Linked DNA regions of Homo sapiens. The protein of the gene in region 1 interacts with the protein of each later gene in a pairwise test. Each region holds a gene or a part of one and is shown in the gene's direction. Other genes may lie near its edges. The genes, in order: NDE1 and ZNF365.

What was found.
Region 2: the proteins of NDE1 (region 1) and ZNF365 interact in binary tests that used the Homo sapiens proteins (3 or more experiments, as listed by UniProt).

Annotation. Positions count from the first base shown.
Region 1 is NC_000016.10:15,646,012-15,653,305, forward strand, and holds the start of NDE1 (nuclear distribution protein nudE homolog 1), read left to right. Parts: upstream 1-4,233; 5' UTR 4,234-4,283; intron 4,284-6,004; exon of another isoform or gene 6,005-6,039; intron 6,040-7,294. UniProt on the Homo sapiens protein: Required for centrosome duplication and formation and function of the mitotic spindle. Essential for the development of the cerebral cortex.
Region 2 is NC_000010.11:62,369,582-62,377,713, forward strand, and holds the start of ZNF365 (protein ZNF365), read left to right. Parts: upstream 1-4,787; 5' UTR 4,788-4,877; intron 4,878-5,289; exon of another isoform or gene 5,290-5,546; intron 5,547-6,599; 5' UTR 6,600-6,612; coding exon 6,613-7,355; intron 7,356-8,132. UniProt on the Homo sapiens protein: Involved in the regulation of neurogenesis. Negatively regulates neurite outgrowth. Involved in the morphogenesis of basket cells in the somatosensory cortex during embryogenesis.

The DNA of each region.
Region 1 (7,294 bases):
AAACATTTTAAATGTTTTTAAGGTTTTACCCAATGACAAACCTATTTCCCTAAATGTTGTTCCCAAATAGGACTTTAAGGATTATTATTTCAATGCCCTCTCTTTTTTCTTTATGGAAAATTTGGGAAATTGAGAACCAACTAGTTTAAATACCTTGATCAAAGCCATTTAGGCAACACCAGTACCTCATCAGTTTGTGCTTCGGTTTCTCTGTAAGCTGAGGTGATTAGTTCCTGTCCAGAAACGTCACAGAGTGGTTAGGGCCAAATAAAATTCCGAGGGGGGCCAGGCGCAGTGGCTCACGCCTGTAATCCCAGCACTTTGGGAGGCCGAGGCAGGTGGATCACTTGAGGTCAGGAGTTCGAGACCAGCCTGGCCAAACCAACATGGTGAAACCCTGTGTCTACTAAAACTACAAAATTAGCTGGACGTGGTGGTGCACACCTGAAATCCCAGCTACTCAGGAATCTGAGGCAGGAGAATCGCTTGAACCCAGGAGGAAGAGGTTGCGGTGAGCCGAGATCGTGCCACTGCACTCCAGCCTGGGCAACAGAACGAGACTCCGTCAAAAAAAAGAAAAAAAAAATCCAAGGGGGGTTAATACCAGCTACTTGGTAGGCTGAGGCAGGAGAATCGCTTGAACTGGAAGGTGGAGGTTACAATGAGCCGAGATCGCACCACTGCACTCTAGCCTGGGCGACAGAGTGAGATTCCATCTTAATGAATAAGTAAATAAGTAATAAAATTCCTAAGGGGAGGCTTGGTGTGGTGGCTCATGCCTGTAATCCCAGCACTTTTGGAGGCTGAGGCGGGTGGAGCACTTGAGGTCAGGAGTTCAAAACCAGCCTGGCCAACATGGTGAAACCCTGCCTCTACTAAAATAGAAAAATTAGGTGGGCATGGTGGTGAACACCTGTAATCCCAGCTAGTCGAAAGGCTGAGGCAGGAGAATCGCTTGAACCCGGGAGGTGGAGGTTGCAGTGAGCCGAGATTGCAGCACTGCACTCTAGCCTGGGCAACAGAGTGAAACTCTGTCTCGAAATAAAATAAAATTCCAAGGGGGAAGGCATCAGACGTAGTAAAGTGTGAAGCAGCATGTAAATGATTCATTAATGTTTGGGAAGTTTCCTGAAAGACATTTGGTACTTTCCTTAAACCTGTTGATAGGTGGTGGGGTTCCCCTTTGTGCCTCTAAGCAGTTTTTAGGAATTAGCAAGGAGTTCAAAGTAGAATTTGAGAAAGGCTGTTGTAGGATAGCAGGAAGGCAAGATGGGGTGGGAGATCCTGTAATAGCTAAGATCTCTTTGCCTCTAGCATAGTGCTGAAGAAGGAGGGTTTAGGAGTCAGAGCCAGCTCTGAAGCCTGATTTGTTAATTACTAGTTGTAAGACCTCGGACAACTCAATTAACTTCCTGCACCTTTATTTTCTTATCTTTAACATGGATACAATTTAATGCTTTCCTGTGGTTCATCACCTGTGGTTCAGTTGCATGGTCTCCTCTCTACAGTGGCCTTCCCTGACTATAGCATCTGAAGTGACCCCTCCCAGCCCGTTGTATCAAATGGGCTTGCCTTAGTCATAGCACTTATCAGTATCTGAAATGACGTTACTTTTTCTGCTTATAGATTTAGTATGTTTCTCTCTTAACAATATAAGCCCTTTGAGGACAGGTACTTTGTCTGACTGTATTCACTGTGCTGTAAGGGTGCATTGTACAGAAGAATGCTCATAATGCCGGGTGCTGTGGTTCATGCCTATAATCCCAGCACTTTGGGAGGGAGGCTGAGGCAGGAGGATCACTTGAGCCCAGGAGTTCAAGACCAGCCTGGGCAACATAGTGAGATCCACGTCTCTACAAAAAAATGTAAAAATTAGCTGGGCGTGTTGGTGCACACCTGTGGTCCTAGCTACTCCGGAGGATGAGGTGGGAGGATCACTTGAGCCTGGGAGGTCCAGGATGCAGTGAGCTTTGATTATGCCACTGCACTCCAGCCTATGTCACAGGGTGAGACTCTGTCTCACAAAAAAAAAAAAAAGCTGGATAATAATATATATATTTTTAGTTTTTATGGGTACACTGTAGGTGTTTATATTTATGGGGTACATGAGATATTTTGATAACAGGCATGCAATGCATCATAATCACATCAGGGTAAATGGGTGTCCATGACCTCAAGCATTTATCCTTTCTTTGTGTTACAAGCACTCCAATTATACTCCTTTAGTTATTTTAAAATGTACAATACATTGTTGTGGACTGTAGTCACCCTGCTGTGCTCCCAAATACTAGATCTTATTCATTCTAACTCTATTTTTGTACCCACTAACCAGAATGTTCGGTATTTGTTAATGAACATGTTATGACAGGATGTTTTAGAAGAAAATAAAGAAAAAAAGAAATTCCAGCCAAGCATGGTGGCTTGATTTTATTTATTTATTTATTTTGAGATGAAGTCTCCCTCTGTCTCCCAGGCTGGAATGCAGTGGCGTGATCTCCACTCACCGCAACCTCTGCCTTCTGAGTTACATGGCTCACGCCTGTAATCCCAGCACTTTGGGAGACTGAGGTGTATTGCTTGAGGTCAGGAGTTCGAGACCAGCCTGGCCAACACAGTGAAACCGTGTCTCTACTAAAAATACAAAAAATTAGCTGGGCGTAATGGTGGGCGCCTGTAATCCCAGCTACTAGGGAGACTAAGACAAGAAAATCGCTTGAATCTGGGAGGCAGAGGTTGCAGTGAGCCGAGATCGCACCATTGCACGCCAGCCTGGGCAACAAGAGGGAAACTCTGTCTCGAAAAGAAAAAAATTATTTTTTAATTTTAATTTGTTAGTGAACAATTAGGGTTGCTGTGAGAATTGTGCCTGGCACACACAGCCATTTAAAAATCACGATCTTCAGGCAGTGTGTGGTGGCTCACGCCTGTAATCCCAGGACTTTGGGAGGCCGAGGTGGGTGGATCACCTGAGGACAGGGATTCGAGAGCAGCCTGGCCAACATGGTGAAACCCCGTCTCTACTAAAAATATAAAAATTAGCCGGGTGTGGTGATGCGGGCCTGTGATCCCAGCTACTCGGGAGGCTGAAGCAGGAGAATTGCTTGAACTCAGAAGGCAGAGGTTGCAGTGAGTGGAGATCACGCCACTGCATTCCAGCCTGGGAGACAGAGGGAGATTTCATCTCAAAATAAATAAATAAACAAAATCAAGATCATTTAACAAATACATATATTGTACTTACTAAGTTCAAATTTCTGTTCTAAACGTTTTTACAAATGCTGTTAAGTCATTTAGTCCTCTGCATAATGTCGTTTGTTTGTTTGTCTGTTCTTTAAGACGGAGTCTTGCCCTGTCGCCTAGGCTAGAGTGCAGTGGTGTGATCTCGGCTCACTGCAACCGCCACCTCCCGGTTTCCCGTGATTCTCCTGCCTCAGCCTCCTGAGTAGCTGGGATTACAGGTGCGTGCCACCACATCCGGCTAATTTTTTGTATCTTTAGTAGAGACGGGGTTTCACCATGTGCCAGGCTGGTCTTGAACTCCTGACCTCGTGATCCACCCGCCTTGGCCTCCCAAAGTGCTGGGATTACAGGCGTGACCACCGCGCCAGACCCATAATGGCGTTTTATAGATGGGGAAACGGAGTCATAGAGGCTAAACAACTTTCCCAAGACCACACAGTTAGTAAGGGGCAGGACTAGGACTCAAAGCCAAGTTTATGACCAAATTCTGGTGCACTACGTTCTCCTGCTTCTGGAGAAGATAATGATGCTGAAGATTCTACTTTTGGTGTAAAGGAGTAGGAAGGGCACGGGGCACTGCTAGCTTCAGTGGGCCTGAATCTTTGTCTTTCCTTCTGATTTGGAGAAAGTGCAAGAATGGGAAAATGCAATCGAAGTGAAGGAGAGGCCGGCGTATTTTCCTGAAATGCGCGGCCCGCAAGCCCAAACCCGTTTCCCGGGTGTCCAGGCAGCGTTCTGCAGCATCTCCAATGCCCGCCAGCCCGCCGCAGCCCAGCGCCCGGCAGCCGGCGCCTCTCAAACCCCCTCCGGCCAGGAGCCTTCGCCGCTTGGCCGCGCCGCGCCCGGCCTGGGAAAAAAGTTTCCAAACGACGCTGCTCTGCGCTGATTGGCCGAGGCGGACGCGGTACCGTAGAGCAGCAGCCAATGGGAGGCGCCGACCGCAGGCTCCGGGGCGGGGGCGGGGTCCGGAGGGCCGGGGCCGCACCGCCCTTCGCAGCCGCCTCTGCCGCCGCCGCCGCGTTGGCCTCGCCGCCCCTGCTCGGGTAAGTGAGGCGCTGCGCGGGGCTGGGGTCGGGGTGGCTGTCCGGGGACCTCCACCGCGGCTGAAAAGCTCCTCTGCCCCGCCCCAGGATCCCGGGACCCCGGGCCACCGCCTGGCAGGGACCCCTACGCCCCTCGCTTGCGCGTCGCTTCCCGGCCGCCTGGACTCCCCCGGTCCCTGGGCTCCAAAATCCCGCCTCCCTGGAGCCTCCCGTCCTAAAAAGTTAGGCACTGAGTGCCTTGCCACCGGTGCGTTCCTCGCGCTGGCCCCTCGCCCTTGGCAACTTTGTTTCTCTTTCTGCGTTGGTCTCTCTCCCACCCCGTTGCCCTCTTCTCCTTCCGGGACTTCCTGGGTGGTTAAGCCTTGCCGGTCCCCAAACCCCGCTGCCAGGCTCCATCCTCTTTCTCCTCTTCCTTCCTCCCCATACTCCTCTCCTAGATGACCCTCGTTTCTTTTCTCTCTCTCTCCTATTCCTCCATCCTGCCACCCGCTTCTCTGCGACCCCAGACCCCTCGATTGCAGCGTTGCCCCTGCCCTCACACCCACTGTCCCGCCCCTGCAGGCCTCTTTCCAAAAACCCACCCTGCTCCCTCCCTCCGGGAACACGTTTGGGGCAGTCTGCTCTCCGCTTTGCTCCCGTCTCTGCCGCAGGACGGTTCAGGTTTCTTCTGACAGCACTTTGGGGAGGGATTGGGTAAAGGACGAAAATGCTTATTCCGCAGCTTGAGTGATGGCTGGGCTCACTGAGGACCTGAGTCTCTGAGGTCCTGGGAAACCCCGCTGTCACCTTGACACCGCTTTTGGGGAGGCGACTTTATCTTCTCCGAGCCATCTCAGGCTTTCTGCCTCCTGAGGGCCTGAGCTTCCTTGATTGCTTTGTCCGTGGTTACTACCAGGTTGTGCCTCTTAATTTCTACTTTGAGCCTCAGGCCCCTTTTAACTTTCTAAAGAAAAGGCCTTTGCAGCACGACCTAGGCAGGTTCATCATTTTTAGTTTTGTTATAGTGTATTCTAGCATAGGATGGCATTTTAGGACATGGGTCGGGTGTTTTGAAGATTAATTAGATCCCAGCTACTCCTAAAGCCTCTTGTTACCCGACCACCCCAGCCTCCATCACCTCGTTGGTATACAACCCGTTTTTTTTTTTTTTTTTTTGTTTTTGTTTTTGAGACAGAGTCTCACTCTCGCCCAGGTTGGAGTGCAGTGGTGCGATTTTGGCTCACTGCAACCTCCGCTTCCCGGGTTCAAGCGATTCTCCTGCCTCAGCCTCCGGAGTAGCTGGGACTACAGGTGCGTGCCACCACGCCTGGCTAATTTTTTGTATTTTTAGTAGAGATGGGGTTTCACCGTGTTAGCCAGGATGGTCTCGATTTCCTGACCTCGTGATCTGCCCCCTCGGCCTCCCAAAGTGCTGGGATTACAGGCGTGAGCCACCGTGCCGGCCTACAACCCATTTTGAGCCTTTCCTCTTAGTGTGTGTTTTGTGTAGGATTAAATGCAGATGATCTGTGCCGCTGAAGTCTCAGGGGCCTGTGATTCATATATTTTATCCCATGTTGGATAACAGTTTATTAACTTGACTTATTTTTGTTTCCAAAGTGTGTTATTTATTATTTATTTATTTATTTATTTTGAGACGGAGTCTTGTTCTTGTCCAGGCTGGAGTGCAGTGGCATGATCTCGACTCACTGCAACCTCAGTCCTCCGGGTTCAAGTGATTCTTCTGCCTCACCCTCCTGAGTAGCTGGGATTACAGGTGCGTGCCACCATGCCCGGCTAATTCTTAGTAGAGATGGGGTTTCACCATATTGGCCAGGCTGGTCTCAAACTTCTGACCTCGTGATCTGCCCACCTCAGCCTCCCAAAGTGTTGGGATTACAGGCATGAGCCACTGCACCCGACTCTATCATTATTATTATTTTTTATGTAGAGGCAGAATCTTGCTTTGTTGCCCAGGCTGGTCTCAAATTCCTGGGCTCAAGCAGTCCTCCTGCCTTGGCCTCCCACAGTGCTGAGATTACTTGCAGGCATGAGCCACTGCATGCAGCCCAAAGTGTGTTCTTTTGCCTTAGAATGTGAGCCGAGAATTGACACTCCTTTTCCTCACAAGGTAATTTCCTAACATGAGCATTCCTGTGTACAGAAAGTTTGTGCCTGCAGTTAGTACTACACGTGCACCTCGTGCAATGGATGTGGGTGCTTTTTGTCTGCCTCCTTCAGCAGTGCCCAGCACTTAGTAGGTATTCAAGAAATGTTTGAAAAGGGTTGGAGGAGGCAAAACCACAGTAGGAAAAATTCTTTCCCTGTCACTTGGTTCAGTAGAATAAAATTATCCTGGAACAATAGCTATTTTACTTTTTGTCCAAGTTTTTGTTTGTTTGTTTTTTGAGACGGGATCTCACTCTGTCGCCCAAGCTGGAACACAGTGATGCAATCACAGCTCACTGCAGTCTCGACCTCTCAGGCTCAAGCAATCCTCTTGCCTGAGCCTCCCAAGTAGCTGGGACTAAAAGCACATGCCACCATGCTTGGCTAATTTTTAAAATTTTTTGTAGAGATTGGGGTCTCACTATGTTGCCCAGGCTGGTCTCGAACTCCTGGGTTCAAGCGATCCTTCCGCCTCAGCCTCCCAACGTGCCGGGGTGGGAGAGAGCCACCGCGCCTGGCCTAAGCTTTTTAAAATCTCTAAAGCGATCTATGCTTACTGTATATATGTGTATGTAGTTTACCTTAAAGCAAGGTGTCAGGTACAAATCCACAGGGCTTGCTTTACCCCCATTCTGGTGCATCCTCCAGACCCTTTTCTATTCTGTGTACAGAGAGAGGGAAATAAACAAAAATGGGCACCCATTTTTAACATATCCTGAGCTTTCTTCCATATTAGTACTTACAGTTCTTAACAACTGCATCGTTTTCCATTCAGTCCTCTGTTGACATTGAGGTTTCCAGTTTTCCACATTCGTGAATGATGGTGTGCATCTTTGAACATGGGTCCTTGCCTGCCTAAGTAT
Region 2 (8,132 bases), on another chromosome or scaffold:
GCTCCACAGGTCCCACTTTGAGAAACACTGGATATGTGCCTAAACATTTAATATAGTAAGATCCATTGTAATTACTCTAAAGGTGAGAGCTATGATCATTAACAATTCAGCAAACATTTATTGAACATCTACTATGTGCCAGGCATGATGTCAGGCCCTATAGACACTTCCCATTTAATTCATTTTAACATATATTTAACTTCTCTATATATATATATGTCCCATATATATATATCTCATATATATGTCCCATATATATATATCTCATATATATGTCCCATATATATATATCTCATATATATGTCCCATATATATATATATCTCATATATATGTCCCATATATATATATCTCATATATATGTCCCATATATATATATCTCATATATATGTCCCATATATATATATCTCATATATATGTCCCATATATATATATCTCATATATATGTCCCATATATATATATCTCATATATATGTCCCATATATATATATCTCATATATATGTCCCATATATATATATCTCATATATATGTCCCATATATATATATCTCATATATATGTCCCATATATATATATCTCATATATATGTCCCATATATATATATATCTCATATATATGTCCCATATATATATCTCATATATATGTCCCATATATATCATATATATCCCATATATATCCCATATAGTATATATATCATATATATCATACATATATGATATATATGATATATATGATATATATCATATATATCATATATATCATACGTATCATATATATCATATATATCATACGTATCATATATATATCATATATATCATACGTATCATATATATATCATATATATGATACGTATCATATATATATCATATATATGATACGTATCATATATACATCATATACATCATATATATCATATATACATCATATATATCATATATACATCATATATATCATATATATCATATACATCATATATATCTCATATATACCATATATATCTCATATATACCATATATATGCTCATATACCATATATACCATATATACCATATATATCATATATATACCATATATATGCATATATATACCATATATATCATATATATCATATATATACCATATATATCATATATATCATATACACCATATATATCATATATACCATATACATCATATATATCATATATACCATATACATCATATACATCACATATACCATATACATCATATACATCACATATACCATATACATCATATACATCACATGATATATATATCATATATATCACATATGTGATATATATCATGTGATATATATCATATATATCACATATGTGATATATATCATGTGATATATATCATATATATCACATATGATATATATCATATGTGATATATATCATATATATCATATATATCACATATATATCATATATATCATATATATCACATATATTATATATCATCTATATGATATATCACATATATATCATATATATCATATATATCATATATATCATATATATATCATATATATGATATATCACATATATATCATATATATCATATATATCATATATATATCATATATCATATACATGATATATATATGATATATATATCATATATATATCATATATATCACGTATATGATATATATATCATATATATCATGTATATGATATATATATCATATATCTCATATATATATCATATATATGATATATATCTCATATCTATCATATATATGATATATATCTCATATATCTATCATATATATGATATATATCTCATATATCTATCATATATATATGCCTTGTTCTCATTCCACTAGTTGTAAGTGCCTGGAGGGCAGAGTAAAACAGCATAATGTGGCATAGAAAAACATCAGTGTTTGAAGACATGAACTCTAACCCTGATTTTATTCTTTATTACCTATATGACTTTAGGCAAGTCACTTTACTTCCTAGAACTTTATTTTCTTCATCAAAAACTGGAAAGCCAATGAGTACAGTGGTTAAAAGCCCAGGGTTTGCCATCCTGGCTGTAATGTGTTCTAGGTTTGTGATCTTGAGAAAGTTACTTAACTTCTTTGGGCCTGTTTCCTCCTATGTAGAAAGGGGATTTATTTCTTCAGCATTCATTCTTTTAACAAATATTTTTTGAGCACTTTGATCAGCACTGTGCTAAGTCCTGGGAATATACTGGAGAGTAAGACAGACAAGGACCCTGACTCACATAGCTTACAACTTAACAGTGGACATAAATATTAAACAGACAACTACATCCATAACCCAGCACATAGAATTATTGTGACAAATCCTGTCATAATAAATTTTCCTAGTACGCACTAACCTTGTCCAGGAGTGTCAGGGAAGACCTCCTCAGAGAGGGCATACTTGGGATGAGCTCTGAGGGATGAGTAGGCATTACCAGATAAAGAGGCCCTAGAGACGGGAAAAAGCAGGGCTCTTAAGTAAAGGGATGCCAAGGTGGCTAGAACTGAGTGTACAAGGTCCTCCCTACCTCACAGGTGTTCAAAGATTAAATGAGGTAATTGGTGGTATACACAAGTGACACTTTGAGAACCACTTAAGGTCCTAAATGCCTGTTGACCAAGTTGAATTTCCCACAATACTCAGCTTTAGGCCCTGCACAGAATAACCTCTCCATAATTATTTGATAATATTTTATATTTTTAGGGTGAGAAAAGGACTTTGAAAATCTCCATCCTCTCATTTAACAGGGGAGGAACTTAGGACCAAAAAAGAAGTAGCAGCTGTCTAAGAAATGGGAGGAGCTGGCTGGGCGCGGTAGCTCACGCCTGTGATCCCAGCACTTTGGGAGGCCGAGGCCGGTAGATCACCTGAGGTCAGGAGTTCAAGACCAGCCTGGCCAACACGGCAAAACCCCGTCTCTACTGAAAATACAAAAATTGGCCGGGTGGTGGCAGGGACCTGTAATCCCAGCTACTAGGGAGGCTGAGGCAGGAGAATCGCTTGAACCCAAGAGGCAGAGGTTGCAGTGAGCTGATATCGCGCCACTACAGCCTGGGAGACAGAGTGAGACTCCGTCTCAAAAAAAAAAAAAAAAAAAAAAAAGGGGCGGGGGGGAAGGGAGGACCAGAGCATGCTTTTGTTATGTTTTGCCATGAAGGCAGTGGGTGTAAGAGGTTAACCTGCAGGCACCTCACAAGATGACGGAGATAACTTGGCACTCCAATGAGTGTATCTTTCAGACTTTAAGATTTTGTACTAAATAAATTGATTCTTGGAATAGTCTTGAGAGCGAGTCAAAAAGTAACTTCAATGAGATATAATATTTTCAAAGCAAACACACCCCAGCACAATAGCCTATCTCCATTTACGTAGAAGTTAGTACATATTAATTCCTCTTCTCCTTCCTGCTTTTTAAATGTGTGTAGGCCCCTTTTTTATGGAATTAATAATAATTATAAATGAAGTAGCAACAACGATAACAGCTGACTTTATCAGTGTGTGTCCCTGTCAGGCAGGGTTTTTACCTCCATCATCATAGCACATTCGATCCACCGCTATATTAAGAGGTAGGTCTTGATTATCTTCATTTCATAGATGAGGAATTGAAGGAACAGAAAAGTCTAGTTACTTGACCCAGGCCCTAGAACCAGGATTTGAATCAAGTCTGATGCCAGAGCTTGGGATCTTCATTGCATTTGATGTGATAATTCATTTGTGAAAAAACAAAGCAATTCATTTGTTTTCATTTGTCAAAAACAAAACAAAATTTCAACTAAGATAACTGTTGAGCTCTTTACCGTTAAAATAAAATCGGGTGTTGAAATGAGTAACAGCAAGCCTTGAGAAAAGACACCCTGAGAAGTCAAGAGGATGCATTAACTGTCTACAGATGAACAGAATCTCTTCTCTTCTTTGAACAAGAAAACCCAGCAGTAACTTTTATCTAGGTTTCACATTTCAGGAGTTACAGTAGGGGTAAACCAAAACAGGTTAAAAAAAAAAAAAAAAAAAAAAAAAAGCAAAAGCCCAGCAAGCTGAGACATCAGAGTCCTTCAGAAGGAATGATTTGCCGTCTTCTCTTCAGGACATCCCCTCTTTAGGAGGACAAATTTTTTCTCCAGGGAAAGGGGCGTCCGCCTCAGAAATGGGGGTGTAGGTGAGGGATCTTGTTGCTTTAACTGTTTGTTCATTAATCCCTGCACTTTACTAGATTTAGTTCTGCCTGTTAACGTAGCCTCAGGACACTTGGCTAGGAAGGCTGGAGTGTACTCTCTGGGTTAGTTATTTTGGGACATTCTCGCCCTGCTGCTTGGGATGAAGAGGTCCTAATTAAATACCCGGACCTTCCAACGGGTAGATTTTCAAAGAAGATGCCCAGCTATGCTGCATCCTCATCCACACTCTCCCGCTCCCCCCAAACTAGTGCAAAAAAGCTTGCCAGGGCCTGCAGAAAGCGCCGCGACTGCGAGGCTGACACGCGTCTTTCCTTCCCTCCCCCGGGGAATGATCCCAGCATCTCTCGCAGTGATGTCAGTGTAATCCTGAGTCGGATCGGGCTCCCGGCTGGGTGGCGGGGGGGCAGATGATGCTCCCGCCAGCTGGGCAGAGCAAGGGTGTTCCCCGCGGAGGTGGCAGCCCTGGGCCGCGGCGTTCCGGAACCCCCGCACCCACGGCGCGGTGCCCCACGGTGCCCGCGAGCGCCGCCCCCGCTGGCTAGCCGCGCCTCGCTCCGCCCTGGACGCCGCCGGTCCCGGCGCGGAGGTGCGGCGGGGAGTGGGAGCCGGCCCGGCTCAGTCTGATTTACGGCTCTGCTGAAAACCGCTTCGCTCCCGCAGCATCAGCACCGGAGGCGGCGGCTGCAGCAGCAGCAGCAACAAGTCGGGTAAGAGGCGGCCGCCGGCCATCTGCGCCCGCGGCTCGGCGGAGGGGACCTGCCGGGGTGGCCGGGGCTGGGGAGGGGGTCCCCGAGCCCGCAGCATGGCGGGGAGTTGGGAGAGCCGGCTTCCCGGCCCCCACCAGCAGGAACTCATGTGCACACGAATCCACTCTGGCACCCGTGGGCTGGCACGCAGCGGAGAGGGGGCGGGGAGAGCTGGGACCCCGGGGCAGGGTCATTGCCAGCCTGCCCTTCTCTGGCAGAGTCACTTAGGGCTCTTCATCAGCCCAGTGGACTGGGTTTCCTCTGGGCCCATAAAAGCCTGCGTGCTCTGGAGTGTGTGATTACCCATTTCCCCATCCAAAATGCCACCCTTTTCCCATTGCCCCCTTAGAATCCTGACTTCCCCTTTCCTTACCTCTTGTCAGCGTCTTTGGCCCTATGCTGAGCCAGGGTTTGCATCTCGTTCCCAGAAAACCAGTGGTTAAACATCCCGGTGTACCCATCACAGGAAGAGGTTCCCCTCTCTGGGGGCCGGGGGCTTCACCTAGAAGCCTTGCCTGCCTCGCTGCCTGGGGACCATTTGCACCTCTGCTTTTGAAGAGGTTGAGGACACTTTTCACCCAAAGACCCCAGCTGGGCTCCCTCATTTCGGGTCCAATGCTTGTTACATTTAAGTAGAAACCTTTCATGGAGGAATAGAAGATATGCACTGCTTGCAGAATTGGGTTGCCAACAGTCATCTGTTGCTAGGGTGAAGATAATGCATTCCTACAAGGAAACCAGAACTTCCTGTTATTAAGAGAGTATGCTGATACCTACCTGGTTCACACACTGACCATCCCTAGAGGTTGTCATATAAAATAGCATCTGAGACAAGACAAATCCGTCCAGAACACTCTATTATAATAAAAATCTTGGCCATGGCCCCACTTATGCCAAATGGTATTTGACACATTGGGTCCCCAGGTTTCAGTGAAACTCACGTATGGGGTCTGTTATTGTTACGATTAGCACTTTGGTTTATGTCATCACAGCAATACCTGAAGGAAAAAAAGGCAAAAATTTCAGGGTGAAAAATTTTCAGCTGATTGCAGGCTTAATGCCACTGTGCATAGCTTGAGTAATCTTTCCTGTACTTGAGGATAGGTCCTGAGCTTGCTGTCTTAGGACCCATTTTGACAATTCATGTGAGTTTTCATATGTTCTTGTGTTCACGCATCTCGGATTGTATCCTTAAAATGGGGCACGGTTTTGCATTTAGTGTGCCAAATTCAGGAGGGGAGGAAACTTGAATTCCACTTCTGGATCTACCACTTTCCATCTGACCTTGGATTAATGGCTTTACTTCCTTGCTTCAGTGTTCTCTTCTGTGGAGAGGGAATGTTACCCACCTTTTTGATTCTAGGTAGGAGTTGGCAAACTTTTTCTGTAAAGGTAGTAAATATTTTAGCTTTTAGGAGCATAGAGTCTCTGTCTCAGTTACTCACCACTGCCATTGTGGTTTACAATAAATAATACAGAAATTGATACGGCAGCAGTAAATAATGCAGAAATTGATGTGGATGGATTTGGCCCATGGGCTGTAGGTTTTAAGTGCAACATAAAATATTATGTGCAAAAGTCACTTGAAACCAAAAAGCCTCTGCTGTCATGGAGATGAGCAGCAATCATTTTAGTAGTGTGTTTTTCAGCCGACTTGTAAACTACCTATTTCCCCCCTCCCAGGACTTTTAGAGTAATGCAACAGAAGGCTTTTGAGGAAAGCAGATATCCCTGGCAGGAGTCCTTTGAGAATGTTGCTGTGTGCCTGCCATTACGCTGCCCGAGGTGTGGAGACCATACCAGATTTAGAAGCTTGTCATCCTTGAGGGCCCATCTGGAGTTCAGTCACAGCTACGAAGAAAGAACCCTCTTGACAAAATGCAGTCTCTTTCCATCCCTCAAAGACACAGACCTAGTCACTTCCTCAGAACTCCTGAAACCGGGAAAATTGCAGAGCAGTGGCAACGTGGTAAAGCAGAAACCGAGCTATGTTAACTTGTACAGCATTTCACATGAACATTCCAAGGACAGGAAGCCATTTGAGGTGGTGGCAGAGAGGCCTGTGTCCTATGTGCAGACCTACACTGCCATGGACCTCCATGCAGACTCGCTGGATGGGACACGGTCGGGTCCTGGACTGCCCACCTCAGACACCAAAGCTTCTTTCGAGGCACATGTCAGAGAAAAATTCAATCGAATGGTTGAGGCTGTGGATAGGACCATTGAGAAGAGAATTGATAAACTCACCAAAGAGTTGGCCCAGAAAACTGCGGAACTGTTGGAAGTTCGGGCAGCTTTTGTGCAGCTGACTCAGAAAAAGCAGGAAGTTCAGAGACGAGAGCGGGCCTTAAACAGACAGGTGGACGTGGCCGTGGAAATGATAGCTGTACTGAGGCAACGCCTGACGGAATCTGAGGAGGAGCTTCTTAGGAAAGAAGAGTAAGTGTTGCTGACAGGGGATGCTAACCCCATTGCTTTAAGCAGCACCCCAATCGCCTTACAAGCAAATGCTAAGCAAGGTTGATTTTTGCTATTTGCAGGTGCCTTGACTGCATTTCTTATTGATATAGTTGAACCAGGAGGAACAAGGCTTTGATATCATTTACCCTCTGTGTGCACGGTCTGCAACCTAGCAGCATTAAAGTCAAATATCTAATTCCTTCTCAACTGGGAATTTGTAAACCACAGACTATGCTTTTAGAGAGAAGACTAGCACAGCCTAGCCATGGTGGGATCCATTCCTAGCACCAAATGGCGTGCAAGGGTGAGTTGAATGGGAAGGCAGAAAGGGTGAGCTAAGTGAGCTGTTCATTCTTGACAGTCTCCGTATTATAAAGTCAATGCAAGATGCTGTCTTAAGTTCAAAAACATTCCTCCAGTATAAATAAGTTTGGTTTATTTGCCATTTTGTATTATCTGCCCAGGTTAATTAAATGTTAGTAGCTGAGAATCCATTTAATTTAATTTATATTTGGGAGAAGCAGACATTAGGGCACCCAGAGGAAAGACTTTCTGATATTGCTATACTTCTATGATTTAAGTTTGAGACTTGACTTTTTGGCAAATGATGTATTTTTTTTTGTTATATTTAAGTTTTGCCCACTTGCAAAGAGTTGAGATTGGTTTTCACAAGTTATAGATCATAGAAGCTATTGCTTGAGAAATCATCATACTTAGAGAAGCATTTCTTTATCAGTAAGTATAGATTTAACCCAA